Homo sapiens: one gene and its partners. The protein of the gene in region 1 interacts with the protein of each later gene in a pairwise test. Each region holds a gene or a part of one and is shown in the gene's direction. Other genes may lie near its edges.

The links. The genes of interacting proteins can lie anywhere in the genome.
Region 2: the proteins of C1D (region 1) and SASH1 interact in a two-hybrid assay, tested with the Homo sapiens proteins (one large-scale study listed by BioGRID).
Region 3: the proteins of C1D (region 1) and PCBD2 interact in a two-hybrid assay, tested with the Homo sapiens proteins (one large-scale study listed by BioGRID and IntAct).

Annotation. Positions count from the first base shown.
Region 1 is NC_000002.12:68,056,302-68,060,004, reverse strand, and holds part of C1D (nuclear nucleic acid-binding protein C1D), read left to right. Parts: intron 1-3,703. UniProt on the Homo sapiens protein: Plays a role in the recruitment of the RNA exosome complex to pre-rRNA to mediate the 3'-5' end processing of the 5.8S rRNA; this function may include MPHOSPH6.
Region 2 is NC_000006.12:148,548,809-148,552,718, forward strand, and holds the end of SASH1 (SAM and SH3 domain-containing protein 1), read left to right. Parts: 3' UTR 1-3,236; downstream 3,237-3,910. UniProt on the Homo sapiens protein: Is a positive regulator of NF-kappa-B signaling downstream of TLR4 activation. It acts as a scaffold molecule to assemble a molecular complex that includes TRAF6, MAP3K7, CHUK and IKBKB, thereby facilitating NF-kappa-B signaling activation.
Region 3 is NC_000005.10:134,908,102-134,911,804, forward strand, and holds part of PCBD2 (pterin-4-alpha-carbinolamine dehydratase 2), read left to right. Parts: intron 1-2,233; coding exon 2,234-2,365; intron 2,366-3,703.

The DNA of each region.
Region 1 (3,703 bases):
ATAAGTTTTTGATGTCTGTTAGTCATCTAAGTGGAGATGTTGAGTAGGCAGTTGAATATGTTCATTCTGGACTTCAGAGTGGTCATTGCTGGAAACAGACGTTTGGGAATTGTCAGTGAACAGATGGTATTTAAAGTTGTGAGACCGGAGACAGTCGTTAAAGGAGTAAATGTAGACAGAAAAGAGAAGGGGCACAAGGCCTGAGTCCTTAGGCATTTTAACAAGTTGGGAAAATGAGGAATAACCACCAAATGAGACAGACTGAGCAGCCAGTGAGGGACAAGGACAATTTTGAGTCTGGTGTTGTAGAATTTACAGTAGAGTAGTATGTTCAGTTTTGTCAGGTGCAGCTGATGGATCAGGTGAAATGAAGATTGACACCTTTGGATTTATCAAGAACTTAAGGAGTGTTATTGATAGATATGTGATAATGTTAAGTCAAGCAGATAGTTGCACACCAGTGTGATAACTGTATTACAGTTATATTCAGAGAACCTTGGGAGCAGAGGAAGAAGAGACCACTTTTGTTTGGGAGGTATGGACACCTTTATAGAGGAGGGAGCATTTGAGGTGGGTTTTAAAGGATTGATAAGTTTCACTAGGCCAAGAAAATGGAGACTGTTATGAAGAGGAGGTTGATATGATTTGGGTATGTGTCTCCTCCAAATCTCTTGTTGAAATGTCACTTCCAGTGTTGGAGGTAGGCCTAGTGGGAGATATTTGGGTCATGGAGGCAGATTGAATGTCTTGGTTTGTCCTTGAGGTAATGAGTTGAGTTCTCACTCTATTAGTTCACTCCTAGAGCCGGTTGTTTAAAAGAACATGGAAGCTCCTCTTTCTCTTGCCACTTCTCCTGCCCTGTCACATGCCTGCTCCCCCTTTATCTCACCAAAAGCAGATGCTGACACTATGCTTCTTGTGTAGCCTGCAGAACTGGGAGCCAAATCTAACCTCTTTTCTTTATAAATTACCCAGCCTCAGGTATTCCTGCATAGCAATGCAAAACGGAGGAACACGGGTATTCCAAGTAGAGGGAAAGGACTATGACAGGACCTCAATTCCCTTCCTTCATGGTCACATCTCCCAGTTAGCTGTTTTAAAGATGCTTTTGTCAGTCCTCTTTCCTCTGTGGCCACTTGCTAATGCCCCATGTTCGGTAGCTCCAGGCCTGCTGAATGTTGCTAAGGAAATCGGAGATTCTAGTCACGTGGAGTAGTGACAGGAACAGAAGTTGAGTGTGATGTTGGGGAATAGGGTAAAGATGGGAGTTAAGGCTGGAAGGGTTAGAGGAATAGATTTTCAGGGAGGAACAAACCTTATATGTTGTATTAAAGATTTTGTCCAGAGAGCATCCCACACAAATCCACTGATGGGATTTGTGAGGGATGTTCCTCCTCCATTCGATTTGAGTTCCATTCTGCCGAACTTTACCACTTACCAGCCCTGTGACCTGTTTCTGTTGTGCCATCTGTAAAGTGAAGCTAATATTAGTGCCCAGTCGTAGAGTTGTGAGAACTCTCTCTGCCCGCACTACAGTTTTTGTCTGCTTAATTCATCTCTGTCATCGAGTGCTTTCTTGAGGAAGCTTTCTGTCTTCCCTCAGATTGTCATGTACACTAGTTTATAGTCTCATAGCATGATTTATTTCTTCATATTACTGTTGTAATTTTATATTTCTGTGATTCTTTGATTAATGTCTATCATCCACACTAAACAGTAAGTGCAGAGCAGGCAAGTTTTTGCTCACTATTATCTTCCAAGTATCAGGGCTGCCTATCATGGAGGCTAATTAAATATCTATTGAATAAGAGAGTCCTTAGTGTCTGGCATGTGGTAAATGCTCAGTAAATATTACTCATTTACATGACATTTTGCAATAAGTGCTGAGGAGGTATCAGGGATAAATAAAGGAACTGTCAGGCAACTGACAGAGGACCTGTTGCAGTTGGGTAGCATTAATTTATGTCTTTTGTGAATTTCGTTAGGAATGAATGTTCAGTAGGCCTAGAGCTAGAATGGTTGGCTGGGGGCAGAAAGAGAAGATGAGAACTTGCAAAAGCATCTTTAAACCAGTTGACTGGGAGGTATGGCCATGTAGCAAGCAGGCCAGAGGAGGCTTTTGTACCATGAGAATAGAGGAAAATAGCCGCCTGGTGGCTAGACAATTTAGGTGTAGAAAACACATTTATATGGTTCTTTGAATGTAACAGTGGTAAAGAATATAGGTTTAGTTGTTGCTGCTAAGTAGGGGGAAATGACATTTTTATCTGGTATGTTTGAGAATAAAGTAAATTTCAAAATTTGAGATGATCGAAGTTTTTATTTATAAACTTAAGTATTATTATAATATGTTACATATTTTATTCTTTAAAAATTGTAATTCAGAGAGTGTAACAAAATGTACTTCCTCACTTTCTTGCTTTTTGTTTCCCAGAAGTGACCACAGTTAACAGCTTCTTTTGGATCCTTTAAGAAAACTTACATGCATATACCATACAAATATGCCTCCACATTCATATATCTTTTTTTCTTCAAAATAAATGGGATGAGCTGGGCGTGGTGGCTCACGCCTCTAATCCCAGCACTGTGGGAGGCTGAGGCAGGCAGATCACCTGAGATCAGGAGTTTGAGACCAGCCTGGCCAACATGGTGAAACCTCATCTCTACTAAAAATACGAAAAAAAAAAAAATAGCAAGGTGTGGTGGACGCCTGTAATCCCAGCTACTTGGGAGGCTGAGGCAGGAGAATCACTTGAACCCAGTAGGGGAGGTTGCAGTGAGTTGAGATCGCACCACTGCACTCCAACCTGGGCAACAAGAACGAAACTTTGACTCAAATAAATAAATAAATAAATAGGATGTATTATACATGCTGTTCTTCAACTTTTGTTCACTTAATATATCTTAGGAATCTTTCTAAGCTGTACCTCGTACCTTTTCACTACTGCAGAGTATTTTAATAGGTGGGCATATCATAATTTATTTAACCAGGTTCTAATAATGGATGTGTGGGTTGTTCTGTTTTAAAGTTTACTGTTTTAAAGATCATTGCAGTGGAAGTCCTTAAACATTATCTTGCGCTAAAATATACTTTGAGAAGTAAAATTGCTAGGTCAAAGCATGTGTACATATGTGATTTTGAAGCATAGTGCAGATTACCTCACAAAAATGCTAAACTAATTTATACCCTGACTAATAGTGAATGGGAGGCTGTTCTCAGCTCACCTTTGTCCATTTTAGTACTATTAATCTTTTTAATTTTTCCCTATTTGACAGATGAAAATGGCATCATATTTTAGCGATTTATGTTTCCTTAATTATCAGTAAGGCTGAGTAGCTTTCTTTATGCTTATTGGTCATCTGGATTATTTGTGAACTGTTGATTTTCTTGTTTATTTTTCTTTTGGGTTGTGTGTACTTTTTTTGTTATTGTTAAATTGATTCATAGAGGCTTTAAAAAAATCTTTGTGTTGCATATGTCTTTTTTTAGTTTTTTATTTGACATTAGTCTTGGGTGTTTGTTTATTTGTTTATTTTGCCTGCATTTTTAAGGGCCAGGTAAAAATACAAGAAATTAGGATTTTTTTTTTAAAGAAGGGAATTTGCTGGGCTCGATGGCTCACACCTGTAATCTCAGCACTTTGGGAGGCTGAGGTGGGCAGATCACAAGGTCAGGATTTCGAGACAGCCTGGCCAACATGGT
Region 2 (3,910 bases), on another chromosome or scaffold:
GAAGACAAAAGAACCAAGATGCCAACTGGCTGCGAATGCTCTATCTCCAGTCTGTCTCTGTGTACTGGTAGAGGCTGGGAGGAGTAGGGGGCAGCCTGTTCCATTTCTGATAGTGCCCTTGCTCTTCTGTCTGTCATCTTGCAGGATGCCCGAGGGCCAGATGGGCTTAGCTAGGCCAAAGTAACAGACTCAAGAGTTATTGTACATTACTGACCACGCTCATTTGTTCAAAAGTTAGAACATCTGGCTGCACCAGGAAAAAAAAAAAAAAAAAGTCCTGTTCTTCTTTAGATAAACAAGAGACATTTTCATAATTGCTTTCTAGCAATCAGCTTTTATTTGCCTTAATATAAGCTTTTAAGCAGTTATCTAACTAGTGTCCACAACCCTGTAACCATACTTCCACATCTTCAGCTTAGGCAGACATCGAACCTCTCTGGGATGTTTCCAGCAAAAGTGAGCTTTTCTAATCGTCTCATTGTAACATGGCTTATTTTGTAGAGGTATTCATCAGCCACACACTTCATGTTGGTTTTTGGTTTTTAAGCTAACTACAAATCTAGTAAAAAGCTATCTGAAATTCACAAATATCATGTGTGTGCGTGCGTGCGTGCGCGTGTGTGTCTGTATTCATAGTGACTGCTTTTGGTTTTAACCAGTTTAGTATCGTTACTGTGTGGATCGTCGCGCTGCAGTATTGACTTGGAATCCTGACCATGTCCATCCCAAAATTCAGTCCTCAGTTAACGGATCATGTTTGCAAAAGGTCACTGTGAGGCTGCATATTTCAGAAAGATGTCCTTAATAAGGGAAGTCATGTATAAGATGTTTTCTAAAAGACTTTTCAGTATTACAACTAATACTATTATTATCCTTCTTTTTTTATTTAGATAATTCTTTTAATTTAAACAAAGGTTCACTATGGAACCAGACAAATCTCATTAGCCATGTGTTAAGTATTTGCTACTTTAAATTGTTTTACAACTGATTTCAGCACATTCTATCCTTTTTTTTTTTTGAAATGGAGTTTCGCTCTTGTCACCCAGGCTGGAGTGCAATGGCACGATCTTGGCTCACTGCAACCTCAGTCTCCCAGGTTCAAGTGATTCTCCTGCCTTAGCCTCCCGAGTAGCTGGGATTATAGGCACCCACCACCACGCCCAGCTAATTTTTGTATTATTAGTAGAGACAGGGTTTCACCATGTTGGCCAGGCTGGTCTCAAACTCAACTCCTGACCTCAGGTGGTCCACCCGCCTCAGCCTCCCAAAGTGCTGGGATTACAGGTGTGAGCCACCGCACCTGGCCTCTGTCCTCTTTTAGTCTAGTGTCTGGTTTTCTAGCAAACAGTAAATTTAAACAAGTAAACTATTATGGTTTCCATTGCTTACAAAATGATTTTCCTTTACATTCTTATCATGAACACTATTTTAAGCATCAAATGCAATCATCTAAAATATAAAGGTCAATCATTTATAATAGAAACACCTTGACCACAAGCCCTTGATTGAACATTTTATAATATTTCATCTACTTATTAAAACAAATAATTTCCCTTGGGTTGGAGGGGAAGTGATTTCATAAATTAATTAGAAAGCCATCTTTAGCATATTGCTTATGTCTGGATCCATGTTTCTGAGGAAAAAGACATTCTCAGGTGATGTATTTTTTTCATGCATTAGTATGCATTTTTAAAAAATAATGCATGTTTCTTTAATAATTAATTTTCATCTTCTATAAGATGCCATGTGAAGAAGTTGTGGAAATGTAGAATAAAAAGCTAAAGCTGCCAAATTTCTGTTGAACTCTTAAAAACAGCTCATGTTTGTTTGTCCTCTCGGGTTGTGGCCTAGCCTATTTGCAATGTAATGAAGCTGCAGGGTTCTTGTATAGCTAAAGCGTTCAATGCATTTCACGTGCTGTGGTGGATGTGGGTGCTGTAGACAGGCTTCTTCTCTTCCTGCTCTCAAAATACCTCGGCTTGACATTTGGACAGATCCTGTCATTGTTTAAGCTGAGCAAAAAACCACACAAAAGTTGTGTAAGAGATGAGATAACAAAGGAGCGAGAGAAATCTCATGTGAATTTCCAAGTTTTAATTCGTTCTCCATGAAGGATTTTCATTTCAGTGAAAGTCGCAGCAGAAGAGGGAACTTTCTGGAGTTTTTGAGAATGCCAAACCACATTTTTATCACACTTCTTTGGAAATCAATGCCTTTGCATAGAAAATCAAATTCAGGGACCACAAAGAATTTTCAGTGGGAATGTCTAGTCTGAGGGGTCTGAGGTTGTTTTTACTTTATTGTGTTGTTTAAATATTTTAAAAATATCTTTAGCGTTTGGTCTTTTTTTTTTCTGTAAACATTTAATTTGGTCTGAGAAAAGCTGAATGTTTGGGTGTGACGTTTGACTGAGGTGGATTGGGGCTGCCTGTGGACATTAGTGAACAGGTGGTAGGCTTCAGGAATATCCAGTTTTAATCAGTTGCATTTGGTACAGAATTTTGAGTAATGGTGAAAATTGTTGTCTTTGGAAAGCACAAAAGAAACCTGGAAAGGCAGTTCGGCTCAGGTAGCTACACATAACATTGTGTATGATTTTCACTTCAAAGCTGTCTGGAAGGAAATGCAGTCAGCTCCAGCTAGTACTATTTATGTACCCAGATAACTAAGATATTGTTTCATGGCCTTGCCTTAGTCAGAGGCCCTTTTCTCTGTCCTGAACCCCCAGGTATGGGTGAAATTGGAAATTACTAATCTATTGGAAATCAGTTCCTGACATAGTAAAGTTTGCTTTCATAACTGCAGCAAAAAAGGTCAACTTGCCAAGTCACTGCTGCCATGTGTGTACTGTATTATTTTCAGAAAAAAATATAATAGTCTGAGTCCAAGTTATCTTGATTTAAAATTGATAGAGAAAAGAAACTGTCGAGCAAGTTATATAACAACTAACAACATTGCACTTTCTGTATATGAAATCAATATTTAAATAACTTATTTTTCTCCATTGCTGTTCTTAAAAACATTGTAAGTAGCTGTAATATACCAGTACCAATATGTTCTTGCAATTGCTTCAGCCCAAGAAAGCTGTGTATTGTTTTAAAAATTGTAAAAATTATTGTGATGATTCATTTAGCATAAAGAGAGGTGGACGGAAGGGTTTTCCTATGTATCAAAACTTGTCTATAATTATGTCATCTATGTACCTAGAAAAAAGTAAATAAATTTCTTCAGTTGAATATGCCTTTTTTGTTGTTTCTTGGGTATTTTAAAGATGAATGGAGTAGAAATGAAAAGGAATTTATAAAGTGGTCAAATAATGAAATATACTGGGAAAATTGTAGTTGTCTGCAATTCTGCCATCACCAGAACTCACCCTCTGACATCCACCCAGATTCTCTTTGCCACTTTATTGCTTTATTTTCAAATATGCATAATCGAGTCATATAATGATAGCACCTTAGACCAGCAAGATATTTTTTGGAAGTCATCTTGAGTCTAAGATTATCATTTTCAAATGAAGAATCTGAGTCCATATGGATGATTGACTTGCTCAATATTATACAGCTAAATGACACCACCACCCATATCTTCTACTGAGAAAGAAAAAACAAGTCTAGGTCTGGATAGCCTAGAAATTAATCAACATGACAATAATGGGTTTTTAATTTCAGCGTACCACAATTGATACAAAGACACATTTTTAATAGGGAGAAGAGGGTGTTTGTAATAAACTTTGAGAGGTAATGTATGCATTTGAGAAACTATTTAAAAAATTACCATCTTTTCAGAGAAACTCTTCTGTATTTATAAATATAATTGCATATGTATTTCGCCATACAGAAATGAGAGCAGATTTTTCATGCTATTCACCATACTTCTAAATGAATACATCTTGGAGGTCCTCCCATGT
Region 3 (3,703 bases), on another chromosome or scaffold:
TGTAGAGACGAGGTCTCATTGCGTTGCCCAGGCTAGTCTTCAACTCCTGGCCTAAAATGATCCTCCCACCTCAGCTTCCCAAAGTGCCAGGATTACAGATGTGAGCCACTGTGCCCAGCCCTAGTAAATGTTTTTTTTTTTTTTTTTGAGACAGAGTTTCACTCTGTTGCCCAGGCTGGATGGCTGGGATTACAGGCGTGTGCCACCATGCCCAACTAATCTAGTAAGTGGTTTTTAACAACAAGCTTTTGCATATTTTTGTTTAATTAAAAAGTATTCTCTGCTGGGCACAGTGGCTCACGCCTGTAATCCCAGCACTTTGGGAGGCTAAGGTGGGCGGATCCCTCGAGGTCAGGAGTTTGCAACTAGCCTAGCCAACATGTGAAACCCTGTCTCTACTAAAAATACAAAATGTTAGCTGGGCGTGGTGGCATGCACCTGTAATCACAGCTACTCAGGAGGCTGAGGCAGAAGAGTCGCTTGAACCTGGGAGGCAGAGGTTGCAGTGAGCTGAGATCACACCACTGCACTCCAGCCTGGGTGACAGAGCAAGACTTGGTCTCAAAAAAAAAAAAAAAAAAGGTACTCTCATTCTTTCCTTTTGTTAGTTGTGGGGAAGAATAGCCGACCTAGCAAAGAAGAAAAACTAGAAAACTGATTTATTAGTATTTTTTTCTTCATAGAAAAAGTTGTCTAAAGGTAAAATCTTTTTCCTCTCTTAATATTAGTGATAAATGATTTTGGGATTTCTGAAGTGGGAGTGAGTTGCAGCTTAATGGCAGAGAATCCAGGGAATGCAGCTTAGCCCACAGTTGCCCTTTGATGAGGAGCCTTCACTAATGTTCATCTTTCTGGGTGACAGCCTCTCTCTCACCTGAGCCTACAGTAACTCTGCAAGTAGGTAAGGCAAGAAGTATTGCCTGGAATGAGAACCCTGCTTTCCTGACTTCTAGTCAAGTGTCCATATCTTCTCTCTGGCCCTGATGTTTAAAGTTATTTCAGTTAAAAAACCAATAGCATGGGAAGTGTGGGCCTGTTAACCAACAGAACCTGGCTTTGTGAATGTCATCCCCAGGATGCGTAGAAACAGGCCAGACAGTGCACACAAGTGCTTTGGACTGGGCAGTACTCTGGCCAAACTATGGAGAGAGTTTGTCTGACTGGTGCTCTGAGAAGAGGGCTTCATAAACCCACCCCACTGAGGCCAGGGCTTTTTACCTGTAGTCCAGAGGATCTGTGGACCCCCAGAAGTTAGATAAAATCCTATGTAAATGTGCATTTGTTTTTCCCCATCCGGGGATTGGTTTTCATTAGATGTGACAGGAGATGGTAATTCCAAATAGTTAAAACCATCTTTCATTCCTTTGTTCTCAAAAGACAGACCAAAACAAGGCTGGCTCTGTACAAAATAAGCTGTCTCTATGGTATGTTCCCTCTGGCCCCCTTACTGCTGCCTCAAACGTCACAGTTCAGCTTCTCTGGCTTATTAGAGATATAACAGAGAGTAGTGAAGGCTACTGAGGTGATGTAGGGCCATCCAAAGAGCAATAGACCAGGAGTTTGGAGCCTTGAATTTTAATTCTGGTCCTGCCAATAGACTTGCCACAAGTCCTAGAATTCTGCAGTGTCCAAGATGGCCGGTGGTAATAGTCAATCTTTGTTGTATCTGTAATAAACCACAGAAGGGCCGGGCGCAGTCACTCATGCCTGTAATTCCAGCACTTTGGGAGGTCCAGGTGGGCAGATCACTTGAGCTCAGGAATTCAAGGCCAGCCTGAGCAACATGGTGAAAATCCCTCTCTACCAAAAATACAAAAAATTAGTTGGGTGTGGTGGTGTGCACCTGTAGTCCCAGCTACTTGGGAGGCTGAGGTGGGAGGATCATTTGAGCCCAGGAGGCGGAGGTTGCAGTGAGCTGTGATTGCACCACTACGCTCCAGCCTGGGCGACAGAGCGAGACCCTGTCTCGAAACAACCAACCAACCAACCAGAGAAGCTGAATTGTGAAGTTTGAGGCAGCAGTAAGGGAGCCAGAGGTGACATGCCATGGAGGCAGCTTATTTTGCACAGAGCTAGCCTTGCTTTGGTCTCTTTAAGAGAACAAAGGAATGAAAGATGGTTAGAATTTGTTGCCTTTCAGACTTTTCTACATCTCTGCTTAAGGTAAGGAGCCATAAGTTTGAGTTTGAGTAAACTTGTACATTTTCAGATATGAAATGTGTTCTCTTCATAGTCATCAGGTACTCACAGGTTGACTGCAGAGGAGAGGAACCAAGCTATACTTGACCTTAAAGCAGCAGGATGGTCGGAATTAAGTGAGAGAGATGCCATCTACAAAGAATTCTCCTTCCACAATTTTAATCAGGTAATTGTTATAAATTCTTGCTAGGGCTGTGGTCTATTTTAGTCACCTTAGGCCATAACACTTTCTGATTCTGCCAGTTGTCTGGTCCCATGTAGATCTAGGATTCAACTCTTCCCTTCTTTAAGAATTCAGTGATAGAGTGACATCCTTGTTGACAGTTGCTACCACCCACCTGGGTGGTGTTTAGCTCTGGGGGAAGAGGGTGGTTTGTGTTACTTGGAAAACAAATTCTGAAACCACTATTGCTTTGGTATGGTGTTGGTTAGGATATGTAGTTTCTTTTGAAATTTCAAATAACATTAAAAGAGAGTGTAAGCCTTTTATTATTGATTATTATTTTTTGAGACAGGGTCTTGCTCTGTTGCCCAGGCTGGAGTACAGTGGTATGATTGTGGCTTACTGCTGCCTCGACCTCCTGGGCTCAGGTGATCCTCCCACCTTAGCCTCCTGAGTAGCTGGGACTACAGGCATGTGCCATGCCCAGCTAATTTTTGCATTGTTTGGAGAGGCAGGGTCTGGCTATGTTGCCCAGACTGGTCTCAAATTCCTGGCCTCAAGCGATCCTCCTGCCTTGGCCTCCCAATGTGCTGGGAATAGAGATATGAGCCACTGTGCCCAGCCTGAGCTTTTTATACTTATCAGAAAGGGGCATGAATAAAACTGGTTGAGGAAGATGTACCTGCTTGACTTATTTTCCCTGACTTTTTCTGGGCCGTTGGTAATTTTTCTTTCTTCCTGCAGTTAAATTTCTATCTCTCAGTCATCTCCCAGGCTGCACCCTTTTCCCTGACTGGCTTATTTTTCTCCAGCCCAGTAGCCAGATCCTGAACCTTTTCTTAAAACCTGACCTCCCCCTTGGAAGTCAGCTTTAACAAGGTAACTGTTCCATTAGGGACCCACCCTGTTTAGAGAGTCATCTCCCATGACTTAACCTTCAGTTATTACACCACTGCATTTGTAAAAGGTAAATGCTTTTGACTATTTTGTTTGTTCAGTTAGTTTGGTAATCCTTTGGACAGATTTATTGTTTTTATTTATATTGGGTGTCGGCATCTAGAAGTCAGAGACCATGTTTGCTTAAATAACTCTCTATTGTACCCAACACAGTTCTGGGTACAAACAGGCATTTGATAAATGCAGACATTGATTACAGTGTTTGCTAGTTTCTAGAAGGGTGTGTGAGGACCAGATTTGCACCAAAGAAACCTTCGGCATGTTTTCCTAGTAAATGTCATTGGCTCCACTGAGCTGCATGCCCGATTCTGTTCTCTATCCATCTGGCTGCCAGCCTCTGCTGTGAGTCTCCAACTCCTAAGGAAACCTGGACCAAGCAGACTC